4 linked regions of the Homo sapiens genome follow. The protein of the gene in region 2 purifies or fractionates together with the protein of the main gene of each other region. This does not show direct contact. Each region holds a gene or a part of one and is shown on either strand. Other genes may lie near its edges.

Region 1 (3,500 bases), on a different chromosome or scaffold from region 2:
TCACTTGTTATAAGAATTCCCTCAAGCATCACAGTTTTTCCCATATTTGTAATGAGTGGCCCATAAGTAAAGATCTCTTTTTAAAGTGTAATTTTATATTGAGCAAACAGCTTGATGTGCGTATTTTCATAAAGTCATAGAATGTTAAAGTTGGGTGGAAACTCAAATCACTTAAGTCAGGAGATAGGAACTACTTGTCCAATATCACAGAGCTCTTCCGTGTTGGGGTCAAGATCCTGTGGACTCCTGGGTCTGTGCTCTTTATACCTCCTTTAAACGTAGCATCTCATTTATTGTTTTTATTTTTTGTGCCAACTTTCTGGTATATCCTGATCTGTACTGTCTAAGACCAGTGTTTCTCTGCATAAGGTCTAGGAATTGTGCATAGTGAGAGCTCTGACCTTCTTGTAGAACTTAAAATGCTCGCTTATTACATTGCATTGTGTGCAATGCTGTGAATTACATATATCCCCATTGTATGGATTAATAAACTGAAGCACAGAGAGTTACTGTTATTTGCTCAAAATCCCACAGCTGGTAAGTGATGAGGCTAGAGCTCAAAGTCTGGTTTTCTAATCACCAAAATGCTTTTTCTAGTCCGCTAGGCTGCGAAGGCATGAGAAGAACCAGAGTACAAACTTAAAATGTGAAGAGAAAGGGTGGAGAAATTAACAGCAGGAATGTGGAATGGTGAATTTGGAAGAAGCCTAGGAAGAGACACCAGCCCAGCTTTCCTTTTTCCAGGACGTCTTTTCTTGCTTCCACCGCCATCTTGCCATCCTCACTTTCACAGTCTCCAGTACTGTGCCGTGTGAGTGACAGGGGCCTGACATAATTGTGGCAGGGACAGCCATCACCTCACTCTCCCTGCGCATCTAAACTATCCCTAGGCGTGGGTTCCTAGCTGGACCCAGTAGACAATGTACTTGTCTAACAAAGTATAGCTCTTCGGAAGCTTGACCCTAGGCCATCAATATTAGATCTGGACTCTCATCCAGCTACTTTATTGGGATAAAATGAATACTAAAGTCTCCAGGACAGGAACTTTGTTTCTTAAAATTTATCTTTGTAGTTTCATCACCTGTATTACCCTCCTAGGTCTGCTGTAATAAAGTACCACAAACTGGGTGGCTTTAAAACAACGAGATGTCTTCTTCCACAGTTCTGGAAGCCAGAAGTCTGAAATCCAGATGCCAGCAGGGTTGGTTCCTCTTGAAGTCTTCATGGAGAATCTGTTCCTTGCCTTTCTTCTGGTTTCCCGTGGTGGCCAACGATGCTCAGCCTTCCTTGGCTATAGACACATCATCTGGTCTCTGCCTTCATCTTCACAGGGCATTCTTTCCTGTGTGTGTCTATACGTCTTCTTATAAGGACAACAGTCTTGTTGGATTAGGGGCCACTCTAATCCAATATGACTTCATCTTAACTTGATAACATCTGCAAAGACCCTATTTTTATTTTTATTTATTTATTTATTTTTTTTTTCCTTTCTTTTTTTTTTTTTTTATTATACTCTAAGTTTTAGGGTACATGTGCACATTGTGCAGGTTAGTTACATATGTATACATGTGCCATGCTGGTGCACTGCACCCACTAATGTGTCATCTAGCATTAGGTATATCTCCCAATGCTATCCCTCCCCCCTCCCCCCGACCCCACCACAGTCCCCAGAGTGTGATATTCCCCTTCCTGTGTCCATGTGATCTCATTGTTCAATTCCCACCTATGAGTGAGAATATGCGGTGTTAGGTTTTTTGTTCTTGCGATAGTTTACTGAGAATGATGGTTTCCAATTTCATCCATGTCCCTACAAAGGATATGAACTCATCATTTTTTATGGCTGCATAGTATTCCATGGTGTATATGTGCCACATTTTCTTAATCCAGTCTATCATTGTTGGACATTTGGGTTGGTTCCAAGTCTTTGCTATTGTGAATAGTGCCGCAATAAACATACGTGTGCATGTGTCTTTATAGCAGCATGATTTATAGTCCTTTGGGTATATACCCAGTAATGGGATGGCTGGGTCAAATGGTATTTCTAGTTCTAGATCCCTGAGGAATCGCCACACTGACTTCCACAATGGTTGAACTAGTTTACAGTCCCACCAACAGTGTAAAAGTGTTCCTATTTCTCCACATCCTCTCCAGCACCTGTTGTTTCCTGACTTTTTAATGATTGCCATTCTAACTGGTGTGAGATGATATCTCATAGTGGTTTTGATTTGCATTTCTCTGATGGCCAGTGATGATGAGCATTTCTTCATGTGTTTTTTGGCTGCATAAATGTCTTCTTTTGAGAAGTGTCTGTTCATGTCCTTCGCCCACTTTTTGATGGGGTTGTTTGTTTTTTTCTTGTAAATTTGTTTGAGTTCATTGTAGATTCTGGATATTAGCCCTTTGTCAGATGAGTAGGTTGCGAAAATTTTCTCCCATGTTGTAGGTTGCCTGTTCACTCTGATGGTAGTTTCTTTTGCTGTGCAGAAGCTCTTTAGTTTAATTAGATCCCATTTGTCAATTTTGGCTTTTGTTGCCATTGCTTTTGGTGTTTTGGACATGAAGTCCTTGCCCACGCCTATGTCCTGAATGGTAATGCCTAGGTTTTCTTCTAGGGTTTTTATGGTTTTAGGTCTAACGTTTAAATCTTTAATCCATCTTGAATTGATTTTTGTATAAGGTGTAAGGAAGGGATCCAGTTTCAGCTTTCTACATATGGCTAGCCAGTTTTCCCAGCACCATTTATTAAATAGGGAATCCTTTCCCCATTGCTTGTTTTTCTCAGGTTTGTCAAAGATCAGATAGTTGTAGATATGCGGCATTATTTCTGAGGGCTCTGTTCTGTTCCATTGATCTATATCTCTGTTTTGGTACCAGTACCATGCTGTTTTGGTTACTGTAGCCTTGTAGTATAGTTTGAAGTCAGGTAGTGTGATGCCTCCAGCTTTGTTCTTTTGGCTTAGGATTGACTTGGCGATGCGGGCTCTTTTTTGGTTCCATATGAACTTTAAAGTAGTTTTTTCCAATTCTGTGAAGAAAGTCATTGGTAGCTTGATGGGGATGGCATTGAATCTGTAAATTACCTTGGGCAGTATGGCCATTTTCACGATATTGATTCTTCCTACCCATGAGCATGGAATGTTCTTCCATTTGTTTGTGTCCTCTTTTATTTCCTTGAGCAGTGGTTTGTAGTTCTCCTTGAAGAGGTCCTTCACATCCCTTGTAAGTTGGATTCCTAGGTATTTTATTCTCTTTGAAGCAATTGTGAATGGGAGTTCACCCATGATTTGGCTCTCTGTTTGTCTGTTGTTGGTGTATAAGAATGCTTGTGATTTTTGTACATTGATTTTGTATCCTGAGACTTTGCTGAAGTTGCTTATCAGCTTAAGGAGATTTTGGGCTGAGACGATGGGGTTTTCTAGATAAACAATCATGTCGTCTGCAAACAGGGACAATTTGACTTCCTCTTTTCCTAATTGAATACCCTTTATTTCCTTCTCCTG
Region 2 (4,136 bases):
TTGTAGTCCTGACCTTCTGATAAGAAGGAAACTCTTGGTCCAGCCCTCAGGGGTGGCAGGGGCCACCCAGATCCTGGGAGAGGAGAGACTTGGGGGCAGGGCCCAGCAACGCCTATGCTTAGAGTAGAACGAATCCTGTAATTCCAAACAGGATCCCTGCTCCCAGCAACAGCAGCAACCCAGCTAGGCTTCCCAGGGGTGCCTGGGGAGTGGGGAGACCTGCAGAGCCCCCTGGGGCACCTACTGTGTGCCAGGCACCTTGCCCAGGTTTTTCCATGCCTCGTCTCAACCGAGCATCACAGCACCCGCTCAACCTCGAGCCTCCATGAGGTTGTGGGTACATCTGCCTAAGACTGACTGCAGGGAGGGCACAGAGGAGGCGCCCCGATCATGCGGCCCCCCAGAAGAAGGAATGCACAAGCTCAGTTGAGGCACAGTTAGCACACAAAGTGAGGGAAGATCGTGCCAGGAGCCCGCATCCTGTCCCAGGCCCGGCTGGGCTGCGTCATCTCCCCGGCACCTCCCTCTCTGTGGGCTACCCATTTCCTTGGGGTCAGGTATACATTCCTCGGTTTGGTGCTCAACATGTGCACTCTTTTTGTGGGGCAGACTGTTCTGCAGATAGCAGGGTGGACCCTGGGAGGTTCAGGGACAGATTGCAGGCACTGGCTGTGCTGTCGGGTCCCTGGCACCTGGTGCTGGGGGACTCACCAGCTCGTCGAGGTTGCGCAGGTCGCTGGGTGTCATGCGGGGGCCGCGGGCAGGAGTCCCTGGTGCGGGGGCGGTTTCAGTGGTGTCCTCCCCAGCGGCAGGGGCGTTGGGGGCTGGGGGTGCAGCACGCAGCTCCCGCTCAATCTCCTGCTCAAACTGCACGAGGCGTGGGGCCAGCAGGCCCAGGCGTGCCCCACGCCGCGCCACCTCCAGCAGGCACAGCACCACGCTCTTCTCGTTCTTGCGCAGCACCAGGTCCTCAGTCTCAAACATGAGCACCTCCGGCACACCCAGCTCCACGCGGCACCAGCCGATGAAGGTGGCCACGTTGTCGCGCGCCATGAAGGAGCCAGGCACTACACTGTGCGCCTGGAAGGCCACACCTCGGGCCGGGCGGGCGGCTGCCAATGCACGGGCAGCCTCGGTCACGGCGTTGGCATGTTGGCACAGGGTCGTGCCCGTGGCCAGCCCTGTCAGGAAGCCATCGCCACCACCCGGGAGACCCAGGCCGTACAAGGCATTGAGCCACTCGGCCAGGTCCTCCTTCATGGCCTCCACGTAGGCCTCACTGGAGCGAAATGGCCGCACGCTCTTGGCCGCCGAGCCCGCGATGCCCGCCACTGGGTCTGCCATGCCCGGACCGGCCGAGTCACTGTGGGCAGGAACACAGTTCAGGATCGCTGTGGGGACCCAGTAAGCGCTCAGTACAAATTAAGCTGCTGGCCACCTGCACCAGTCTGTCACTCAGGCCAAATGCCTGGTTTACATGTTGGCTCTGGGAAATGTCGGTGCCCCAAGTTTCCTCATCTGCGAAATGGGTACAGTAACATTCCCTGCCTCATAGGACTCTATGGGATAATTTTTATAAATTTAGGGTCCATTAAGTGTTTGCTGTGTGGCTTTTTGCGGTGGAAACTGGGGCTTGGCTGGGGCCTCCCTCTCAGGCAGGGAGGCGCGCCCATTGTGAAGGGCTGGGACCTAGAGAAGTGAAGACAACGGCTAAGGCCCCCAGTGGACACGAAAGGAACCCAGGTCCTGACCTCAGAGTGGGTTATGTGCATGGCTTAGGGCTGGTGCCCACCCCATGTCCTGCGGGAAGGTCCCCGTGCCTTCCTTGGCCCCCCTTCCATAAGGGCTGTGCCGTCATTAACGACATAGCAGCAGCAATAGTGTAACAGCACGACCGCGCTCGGGCTCAGCGCGCGGAGGCATTATCTCCATTTTATAGATGAGGAAACTGAGGCGCAGAAAGGGTCGAGCTCGTGAAGGTCGCAGAGCTGTGGGTGGAGGAGCCCGGCGTCCAGGCGGCGCAGCGTGGCCGGTCTCGGCGATCCGGGGCCAGGGCCAGGCCCCGCCTCCTCCAAGAAGCCTCCCCAGCGCTCCAGGCCGGTGCCTGCGGGGCCAGGACTCAGAGCGGCCTCCGCAGGCCCTGCCGGTGCTGGGGCTCTGGGCCCAGAGAGGGTGCGGGGCCGCCCAAGGTCACACAGCCCCGGGGAACAGAGGCCGAGGACGCCGCTTCCCGCCCCGCCTCCCCACCCCCGTCCATGCGCACCAGGCAGGGAGTGCTGGGGGTCTCCGCGCTCACCTGGCTCATCCCGCGGCCCCGGGGAGCATTGCCCCAGCGGGGGCCGGAGCCGGGCCGGGCCGCCGCAGGGAGGCGCCGCCCGAGCCGCAGCTCTATGCGTCCCGCGCCGCGGCCTCCTCCTCGCCGCCGTCTCCGCCCCGCCTCCCTGGAATTCGGATCCTGCCCGGAGGGGGCGGGCGGGGCCGCGCGCTCTTAAAGGGGCCGCCCCTTCCCCGAGCCGGCGGGAGCTGGGGTGGAGCTGGGGTCTCCCCCCGCCCGCGATCGGGCCAGGAATCCCGGGTCTTCGAGCGCTCTCGACGCAGAGAGCCCCAGGGCCCCCAGACAACTGCGACCGGCCCAGGCGCCCAACCCCCACCCAGCCTAGTACCCGGGGCCCCGTCCAACCTCTTTGGTCTCCTGGGGAGGAGGTTGGGACCTTTTAATCGCCCCCCTCCCCAGACGGTGGGCTCCCCGGGCTGGCGCACAGCACGGCCTGTTCCCAAGATGAAGGCAGGAAGCGATAGCGGCTGGAGGCTGCAAAGTCACCTCCTCCCGGGTGGACCTCCCCTGGCCAGATAAACGGCACCGCCGCGGGGAGGGGGAGGATGCCCCTGGCGACTGAGGGCTCCTTGTGCTCACTGAATGCTCATTTTTGACCCTGAAATGAGGGGAACCGGTTTTACAGATGAGGATACTGAAGCTCAGAGAAGTAGGCAGATGGCCAAAGCCGGAGTTCCGCACAGAACAGGGGACGGGGGGCATCGGAGGCCGGCCGGACGCGGGAGGGTTAAGCCCCGCTGGGCTCTTTTTAAACTGCAGAGGACGGACCGCCGGGATCAGCGGGAAATCCTGCCCCCTGCTGCTGCCGGCTGGGCTGGGCGGGACGTCGGGCGGGTCTGGGCGGCAGCCATGCTACACGGGTGGGGCAGGCCTGCAGGGAAGCCGCCAACCACAGCCAGGCTCAGAGCTCCAATAAATCTCCTACTGTGTGCTGCCAGGACTGCTCTGCGCCCTTGACCTGAATGAACTGGTGTGTCACCTCTGTGAAGGACACTCATGCCCAACTGGGGCACAGTCAGGAGAGCAGCTGGTGGAGCCAGGATTTGAACATGACGATTATGGGGACGCCCTCATCCACGGATCAGCAGCATTGGTTGAGCACCTGTGAGCCAGGCCTCTTGGTGCCAGGCATTCACAGGCATCCCAGAGAGTCCTTGTGACCTTTTCTTTTTTATTTTCTTCCTTTTTTTTTTTTTTTTTTTTTTTGTCTCGCTCTGTCGCTCAGGCTGGAGTACAGTGGCTGGATCTGGGCTCATTGCAACCTCTACCTCCGGGGTTCAAGCGATTCTCCTGCCTCAGCCTCCCGAGTAGCTGGGATTACTGATACCTGCCACCACGCCCGGCTTTTTGTATTTTTAGTAGAGACAAGTTCACCATGTTGGCCAGGTTGGTCTCGAACTCCTGACCTAAGGTGATCTGCCCGCCTCCACCTCCCAAAGGGCTGGGATTACAGGTGTGAGCCACTTGCCTGGCCTGTGTGACCTTTTCAAAGGCGTTTTCTCACCTCAGCGCCCCCCATGGCACTTCCTCCAGTGAGGAAGGCAGTAACTAGCAATCCTCAAGGCTGACACCTGCGTGGCACCTACTGTGTGCTGGGTCTCTTTGGGCACTGGAAATCAACAGCAAAACAGCAGGGAACCAAGCAGAGCCAGCTCTCAGGGCCTGTTGTCCAAGTCTGGCAGGGAGGCAGCCCCAGGGCAGAGACAGGGATGAGGTGCAGAGAAGACAGGGATGGAGCCGGGTGAGGGTGTGGGTGTGAGGGGGCTGCAATTTAAAATCCCTCATCAGGAAAGGAAGTGAG
Region 3 (3,500 bases), on a different chromosome or scaffold from region 2:
CCTAAACTCTCCAGGTATTTTATTTGTTTTATGGAAAGTATATCTCAGATCTTAGAGAACTTTCCAAGCAAATAAATGAATTATTCCTTTGCTTTTTGTCTTCTTCTTTTTCTCTTTTTGAGATGGAGTCTCGCTCTGCTGCCCAGGATGGCGTGCAGTGGTGTGATCTTGGCTCACTGCAACCTCTGCCTCCTGGGTTCAAGCAATTCTCCTGCCTCAGCCCCCCGAGTAGCTGAGACTACAGGTGCAAGCCACCACATCTGGCTAATTTCTGTATTTTTAGTAGAGATGGGGTTTCACCATATTGGTTAGGCTGGTCTCAAACATCTGACCTCAGGTGATCCACCCGCCTTGGTCTCCCAAAGTGCTGGGATTACAGGCACAAGACACCATGCCCAGCCCAATTCTTGATGCCTGAAGCTATGAAAATCTCATATTTTTTTGTTTTACTATCTTTATTTGCTCAGCTAATTTGACATTTTATTTCGCTCTCAGTAAAAGAATACCATAATGATGGGTTCCTTTGTTTGAGCTGTGTAGACACTAGAGGTTAGCCGTTCTTCCCTGGTGTATGTCTCAGATTAATTTTCAACTTTCTTTTCCAGCCTTACTAGTCCCTTAATCAAAAACAAAACTCCACCTGCAGGCACCAAATTAGAGAAGTCTGACTGGTTAACATTAAGCAATGTTTCCTCCTAACACTGACATGGTGGTCAAGGGCACTGGCCTCAAAGGCAAGAGACTGGGTTCAAATCAGAGCTGCTTGCCCCTGCCTGAGGAACCACTGTCTGGTACCAACACTTCAGCCGCCCTGTGTGGCTTCCTGTTCACACTTTGTGACATCTCTCTTCCTGGCCTTTGCTCAAATTGTAGTCACCATGTTTAGTGCCTCCCTCTAAAATATGAAAGGGTAGCTGAGGATCACCACACATCTGAGAAAGGCTCCAAGATGACAGAGGCCAAAACACACAAAGGAGGAAAAGAAACAGACCAGGATGCAGGGAACAAAAAAATTTTCAGGAAAACCCCCAAATTAAGTGAATTTGCTTAATATCCTTAGAGTAGTAAGAAAAGGTACTGCATTAGTGAGTCAAGAAAGGATGCTATAGAGATAAAGAACAATAAAAAAACTTAGCAATTCAATATAAAACAGGTAAACTTAGTAGAGGGAGTGGATGGTAAAGTTGAAGAATCTTCCTTGAAGTATTACCAAAAGACAAAAAAAAAAAAAAAAGAAAAGAAAGGAAAATGAAAAATTACTTCTTTTTCTGTTCTGTCTTACAGAAATTACTGTAAGACAGAACAGAAAAAATGATGGGGCTAGGAAAAAATTCAAGAAAATTTCCCAGAATTTTAGGATACAAGTTTCCAGATTGAATGAACCCAATGAATGCTCAATAAGTGGGGGAAAAATCCAGAATTCTGAGAATAAAGAGAAGATCCTAAAAGTTTCCAAACTTTTTCTTTTAAATTTTTTTTTTTTTTTTTTGAGACAGAGTTTTGCTCTGTCAACCCAGGCTGGAGTGCAGGGGTGTGATCTCAGCTCACTGCAACCTCTGTCCCCTGGGCTCAAGTGATCCTCCCACCTCAGCCTCCCAACTAGCTGGGACCATAGGCACAAGCCATCATGCTTGGCTAATTTTTGTATTTTTAGTACAGAAGGGATTTCACCATGTTGCCCAGACTGGTCTCAAACTCCTGAGCTCAAGTGATCCACTCACTGCCCTCCCAAATTGTTGGAATTACAGGTATGAGCCACCACACCCACTCACTTTTTCTTTTCTTTTTTGTGGAGATGGGGGTCTCACTATGTTGCCCAGGCTGGTCTTGAACTCCTGGGCTTAAGCGATGCTCCTGCCTCAGATTCCCAAATAGCTAGGACTACAGGCATGCATCACCATGCCCAGCTAAATAAAAAAAATATATTTTTAAAGGAAGGGTCCTACTTTGTTGCCCAAGCTGGACTTGAACTCTTGGTCCTAAGCTATTCTTTCACCTTAGCCTCCTGAGTTGCTGGAATTACAGGTGTGAGCCATAATGCCTGGCTCCTAATTTTACTTTTTTGATATTTATTAGTTTATTTTATTGACTAGTTAATACAGTCACATGGTTCAAATATCAAGAGCATGAAGAGTGGCACTTGACAACCTGCTTCCACCTCCATCCCCACACTCCTTTCATTGTGTTCTGCCAGTGATTTTTATTCAAATGCAGGAAAATTGCAGCCTTTCTCACACAAGGAACAGCATGCTATCTTTATTTTCTGTATATTACTTTTTCCAATTAACAATACTTACTGGAAATTATGTCAAAGAAGACACAGAGTTCATCATTTTTTGGAAAATTATTTTTAACCTAGAACTCTATACACAACCAAAGTATCAATCAAGTATGAATGTAGAATAAAGACATTTTCAGACATGTGAATACTTAGAAAAGGCATTCTTGCTCCGAAAGCTACTGAAGGATGTGTTCCAGCAAAATAAGACAGCAATCCAAGAAGGCAGATAATATGGAATCCAGAAAATAGGGACCTAACAACAACAATAAAAAGGGGGTAAAAGAAATTCTCAGAATGGTGGCAGAGGGAATGGCAGGTGCAGGAAACCCTGAGGAGAACATCCAGACCAGACTGGATCTAGAGGACAGAGGTCTCTAGTGGGTAGATTTCCATGGGAGAATAAAATGGAATTGATAGATTATCTGCTTTGTTTAATCATATAGAACATAGCATTTTGATGGGTTCTATTGAAAACTTTATGGAGATATGTAGATATATAGATAGATAAGCTAGATATGTAGGCAGATGAGCAATGAAAAAGAAAATAAATCATTAACTCTAGAAGAAGCAGAAAGTTGTATAAGGAAAGAAAGATTATAGTACACTGCTTGGCTCTGCAATTGACATTATTTACACAGCTGGCAAGATCATCATCATCACCAGCATTTACTGAGCATTTACTATGTGACAGTCATTGTTCAGAGGTCTTTTTGTGAAAGATCTCATTTACCCTCATAACTGCCCTGGGTGAAGTATACTCCTAAAACTTTCCCATCTTACCTATGGGGGAACTGAGGCACAAAGTTGATAAGTAACTTGCCCTAAGTCATGGTATAAGGGACAGAATCAGGATTTGAACCCAGGAAATCTGATTCTAGCACCCATATTCTTAAGCAGTCTGTCCTGCCAGTGAATATTCATTTAGCCCCACACTACAATGAACTATAGTGTGATGCAGAGAAGGAAAGTAGGGAGCTGGCCTGAACTGGGCCCATGCACACCAAGTCCCGTCCTTCAATGCAGGAGCCAGCTGACAGCATCTGCAATTGATAAACTAATGTGTAATACATATGTATGTTATTTATAAACAAGGAGATCATTACCAGATCATTGAGGGTCTTGTAGCTTGTTTAAGGACTTGGGTTTTACGGAGTGATACAAGACACCCTTGGAAAGTTTTTATCAGAGAAGTGGCATGATCTGACATATTTTAAAAGGA
Region 4 (3,500 bases), 9.5 Mb from region 2:
TGAAGGGTCCAGTGGAGATGGTGGAGATGCAGAGGCAGACCTGCCTGCCTCCCTGTGACAAGGGGCTGGACCTGCACACCCTGCCCTTGCTGCGGACCCTTTGCTGGCCCCTTCTGGTTCCCCCACCCCATTCTGCCCCTCAGTGGGGGACACCAGAGCCTCCATCAGAGAGTTCCTGACTCCCCCGAAGGCCATACCTGGCTCCTGCACCTTGGAGACCCACCTGAGGAGCTGGCGCCCCTGGGGCAGCGTCTGCAGCCAGGTCACACACTGGCCGCCGTGGCCATCCAGGGTGGTAACCGCTCTCCGCGTCTGCAGGCTCCAGATGTGTACCAGGCCACTCTGAGACCTGTTTCAGACAAGCCGAGCAGGGTGTCAGGGGGCAGAAGGGTGTGCTGAATGCTCTGGGGCCAGCCTGGAGGCCACATTGTGGGATGCGGGCATCTAGGCTGGTTGAGCTGAAAAGCCAACAGCTCTAAATATGAACTAAGGGCCAAACTGGCAAAGCACTCCTTGCTCCTCTTCCAGAGAGGGGACCGGGGGACCCTCAGGAGCCTCTAGGGGTAACTCAGGCAGATCTGCTTCTCTGGAGGTAGGGGGAGCCATGCCACAGTAATGCACGCTGGGTGGTCGTGCCTGCTCCTGCGTCTGTAACAAAGAGTGTGTGTGTGTGTCCCTGCCTCCCCCAAGGGACAGTGTGTCTGCTGGTGGGTGCTGAAAGCTCAGCAAGCCTGGGTGGCGAGCAGTCCATGCCCCTTGGCCAGCACCCTCAAACAAGCGCTGGGCTCCTTGCTAGCTCACGACCTCCTGACTTGGCCCTGGGTGGCCTGGGGCTGGGGCCACAGCTACTCACCCTGAGAAGAGGAGCGGGCGCCCCTGAGCCTGGGCTCCTTCGCAGAAGTGCAGCGCATGCACCGGTGACTGGGTGCCTCGGAGGACAAACTGGGGGTCTGGAGGTGGCGGCGGGCAGGGGGCCGTCATGCTGGGCAGGATGCAGTTACCTGGGCACCAAGGGAGGGCGTGTGAGTGACTGCGTCCCTATTCTCACCCTCTAGGAAGGCTGCTCAGGCACAGGGGTGCTTGAGATGTTGCCCCTGCTCATTGTCTCTGGCCCTGTGCCCCTCCTGGGAGAGAGGTGCCACTGCTCCCCAGACACTGATGAACGGCCTGTGGCTACAGAGGCACCAGTTCCCTGCACGGCGGTGAGCCCAGCAGAGAGCACAGAGCTCACCCTTCCCCCACTGCTGGGGGAACTGGGAGCCCCATGGATGCCAGCCCTCCTCGCACCGTGCCTGTTGGCCTCTGCACCTGACTGGTGCACCCGCTTGGGCCCCACCTGAGCCATCCCTGAGTGGGCACAGCGGCATCCAACACTTCCTCGGCCACTCTGGCCTCCAGGGCTTCCTGTCCACCACTGGCTGTGCCCTCTGGCTCCCCAGATCCCAGGGGCCACACCAGTGCTTTCCCACTCTGGCCATCTGCATGCCGGGACTGCCGGTCCTGCCACTGGGCTTGGCTGAGTCCCGCCCTCTGTCCAGGGCTCACTCCAGTGTCTCTCTTGGGAGCCACCCTCCCTCCCTGCTGGCAAATCCAGTCTCCCTTCTTCTCTCCTCCCTGCTGCCACCTCTGCCCATGGCCAGCTCAGGGATCAGGGGAAAAGAGGCACACAGGGTCCCGGGGGGCTGCTAGGAGGAGCCTTCCTCTCACATCTGCTGGGCCCCAGGCCTGCCCCGCCACAATTTCTAACCGCTATCACCACCCTATAAGGCGGCAGCACCCTTTTCACTCTTGGGGAAACCGAGGCAGAGAATAGTCACTGAGCTGCACCAGGCCCCTGGCGCTGAGGCCTGAAGTACTCTAGGGCCTCATGGCACCACTGAAGGGCAGAGTGGCTGGGGCAGAGTCGCCGTGCGGCTCCTTAGGAGAGCTGCGGTCACAGATGAGCAGCTGTTCCCCAGACCACTGGGCCTGTGGGGGAAGACTGCCGGGCCACCACCCACCCAGAGAGGCTTCCCGGGTCCGTGCCGAGCCCTTCCAACCACTCAGACCCACAGGGCCTCGCACTCCACCTCAGCCCCACAGCTGGCTGCTCTGTGGGGTGGCCCTGGAGCCAGAAGCGACCAGCTCCATGTCTGTCTGCCTGCAGACCCTGAGCTGGGCTAAGGGCTCAGAGGGAAAGGCCAGGAGCAGACCACTGGGTGGCTGGGGCAGCCTGTCACAGGGGGCCTTTCCCACTGGGCTCTGGGACAGTGGGGCAGGCCCCGGCCCAGCCACCTGCAGCCTGCACACAAGGCAGGGAGGATGGCCCACGGCAGCCACAGCCAGCAGAGGGACTGGGGCCAGTAAAGGACCAGGGCAGGGGAGATGGGAAGGACTCTTCAGAAGGGGCTGGGTGGTAGGCGGATGGGGGTGCAGGTTCAGAGGCAGGAGTGCTGTGGATGTCTGGAGGCAGCTGTCCAGGGTGCCCCTTCAGCAGCACTGCCACCGCCAAGCCCTGCCTCTCCCCTTCTGAATACACGCCAGCCCTCTCCTTACTCTATTCAGAGCTGGGGCAAAGGTTCAAAACACCTGAGAAATGCCCCTGCCAAGGTGTCCTGCAGAGTGGAGGGTGGACAGCAGCCAGTGCCCAAGCGGGCGGCATGGGGGAGGGCAGGAGGCCTGGGAGGGGCCGGGCAGTGACTCCAGGGCGCAGGTCCACCCTGCCTGGCGAGAGACCTCGGGCAGCCACTCTACCTCCCAACCCTGCCTCTCTCAAGGGGTTCCGAAGACAATGCGGAGTTCCCTGGGATATCCTTTACTAACTGCCAAGTCCCATTTTTCCTTTTCTTTTTTGAGGGGGATGAGAGAGGTTTCGTCCTCTCTCACCTTTGGCTGAAAGCCAACTGATCATGCCCAAACTTAAGGGTGGCTTCCAGGGGAGGCAGAGGGACCAGACCCCACACTGCTCCCAAGACCCACGGCCCCTGCTCCAGCCTGTGATGGGGAAGACTCCAAGACTCCTGAAGACGCAGCCAGGCCGGGGGCTGGAACAGCTGCCCTCAGCGGGCTGGCTTGGAGGACAGTTCTCAGAAGCCACTGCCTGTTTGTGCTATGCCTGCCAGGTAAGAAAGGCAAGCTAGCCAGGGGGACAGGAAGGCAGGGCCCAGCTCCAAGAGGAGCCAAAGAATGCAGACCCGGCAAAAGCACCTCCACCTAGCAGGAAAGCACCGAGTCCAGGATGGAGGGTCCCTCCCATGACTCCAGTCCAGGAAGCAGAGCCTGACAGGTCACCTCTACACAGGCTCCCCTGTGCAGTCCAGGCACGAACACACATTAGACACACGCTATGCTCACACATACACACACATGCACATGGTGCACACAGACACATGCAAAACCCACACATAGGACACATGCCTACACATACATGTTCACACACCCATATGTGCACACACACACATGCACACACACAGGCACACACTCATACCTACATACACATACACACACGCAGACTCAGACAC

Evidence for each region. Proteins that work in one complex are often made in the same cells at the same time.
Region 1: the proteins of GAS2L1 (region 2) and PRMT8 purify together in Homo sapiens (co-immunoprecipitation; one large-scale study listed by IntAct). This does not show direct contact.
Region 3: the proteins of GAS2L1 (region 2) and LRRFIP1 purify together in Homo sapiens (affinity purification with mass spectrometry; 2 studies listed by BioGRID and IntAct, with this or other methods). This does not show direct contact.
Region 4: the proteins of GAS2L1 (region 2) and GNB1L purify together in Homo sapiens (affinity purification with mass spectrometry; 3 studies listed by BioGRID and IntAct, with this or other methods). This does not show direct contact.

Annotation. Positions count from the first base shown.
Region 1 is NC_000012.12:3,497,703-3,501,202, forward strand, and holds part of PRMT8 (protein arginine N-methyltransferase 8), read left to right. Parts: intron 1-3,500. UniProt on the Homo sapiens protein: S-adenosyl-L-methionine-dependent and membrane-associated arginine methyltransferase that can both catalyze the formation of omega-N monomethylarginine (MMA) and asymmetrical dimethylarginine (aDMA) in proteins such as NIFK, myelin basic protein, histone H4, H2A and H2A/H2B dimer.
Region 2 is NC_000022.11:29,305,314-29,309,449, reverse strand, and holds the start of GAS2L1 (GAS2-like protein 1), read right to left. Parts: upstream 2,801-4,136; 5' UTR 2,297-2,800; exon of another isoform or gene 1,364-2,296; 5' UTR 1,345-1,363; coding exon 712-1,344; intron 1-711. UniProt on the Homo sapiens protein: Involved in the cross-linking of microtubules and microfilaments. Regulates microtubule dynamics and stability by interacting with microtubule plus-end tracking proteins, such as MAPRE1, to regulate microtubule growth along actin stress fibers.
Region 3 is NC_000002.12:237,634,087-237,637,586, reverse strand, and holds part of LRRFIP1 (leucine-rich repeat flightless-interacting protein 1), read right to left. Parts: intron 1-3,500.
Region 4 is NC_000022.11:19,820,375-19,823,874, forward strand, and holds part of GNB1L (guanine nucleotide-binding protein subunit beta-like protein 1), read right to left. Parts: intron 1,002-3,500; 5' UTR 982-1,001; coding exon 854-981; intron 350-853; coding exon 224-349; intron 1-223. UniProt on the Homo sapiens protein: Acts as a critical regulator of DNA damage response (DDR) signaling via specifically regulating phosphatidylinositol 3-kinase-related protein kinase (PIKK) family proteins.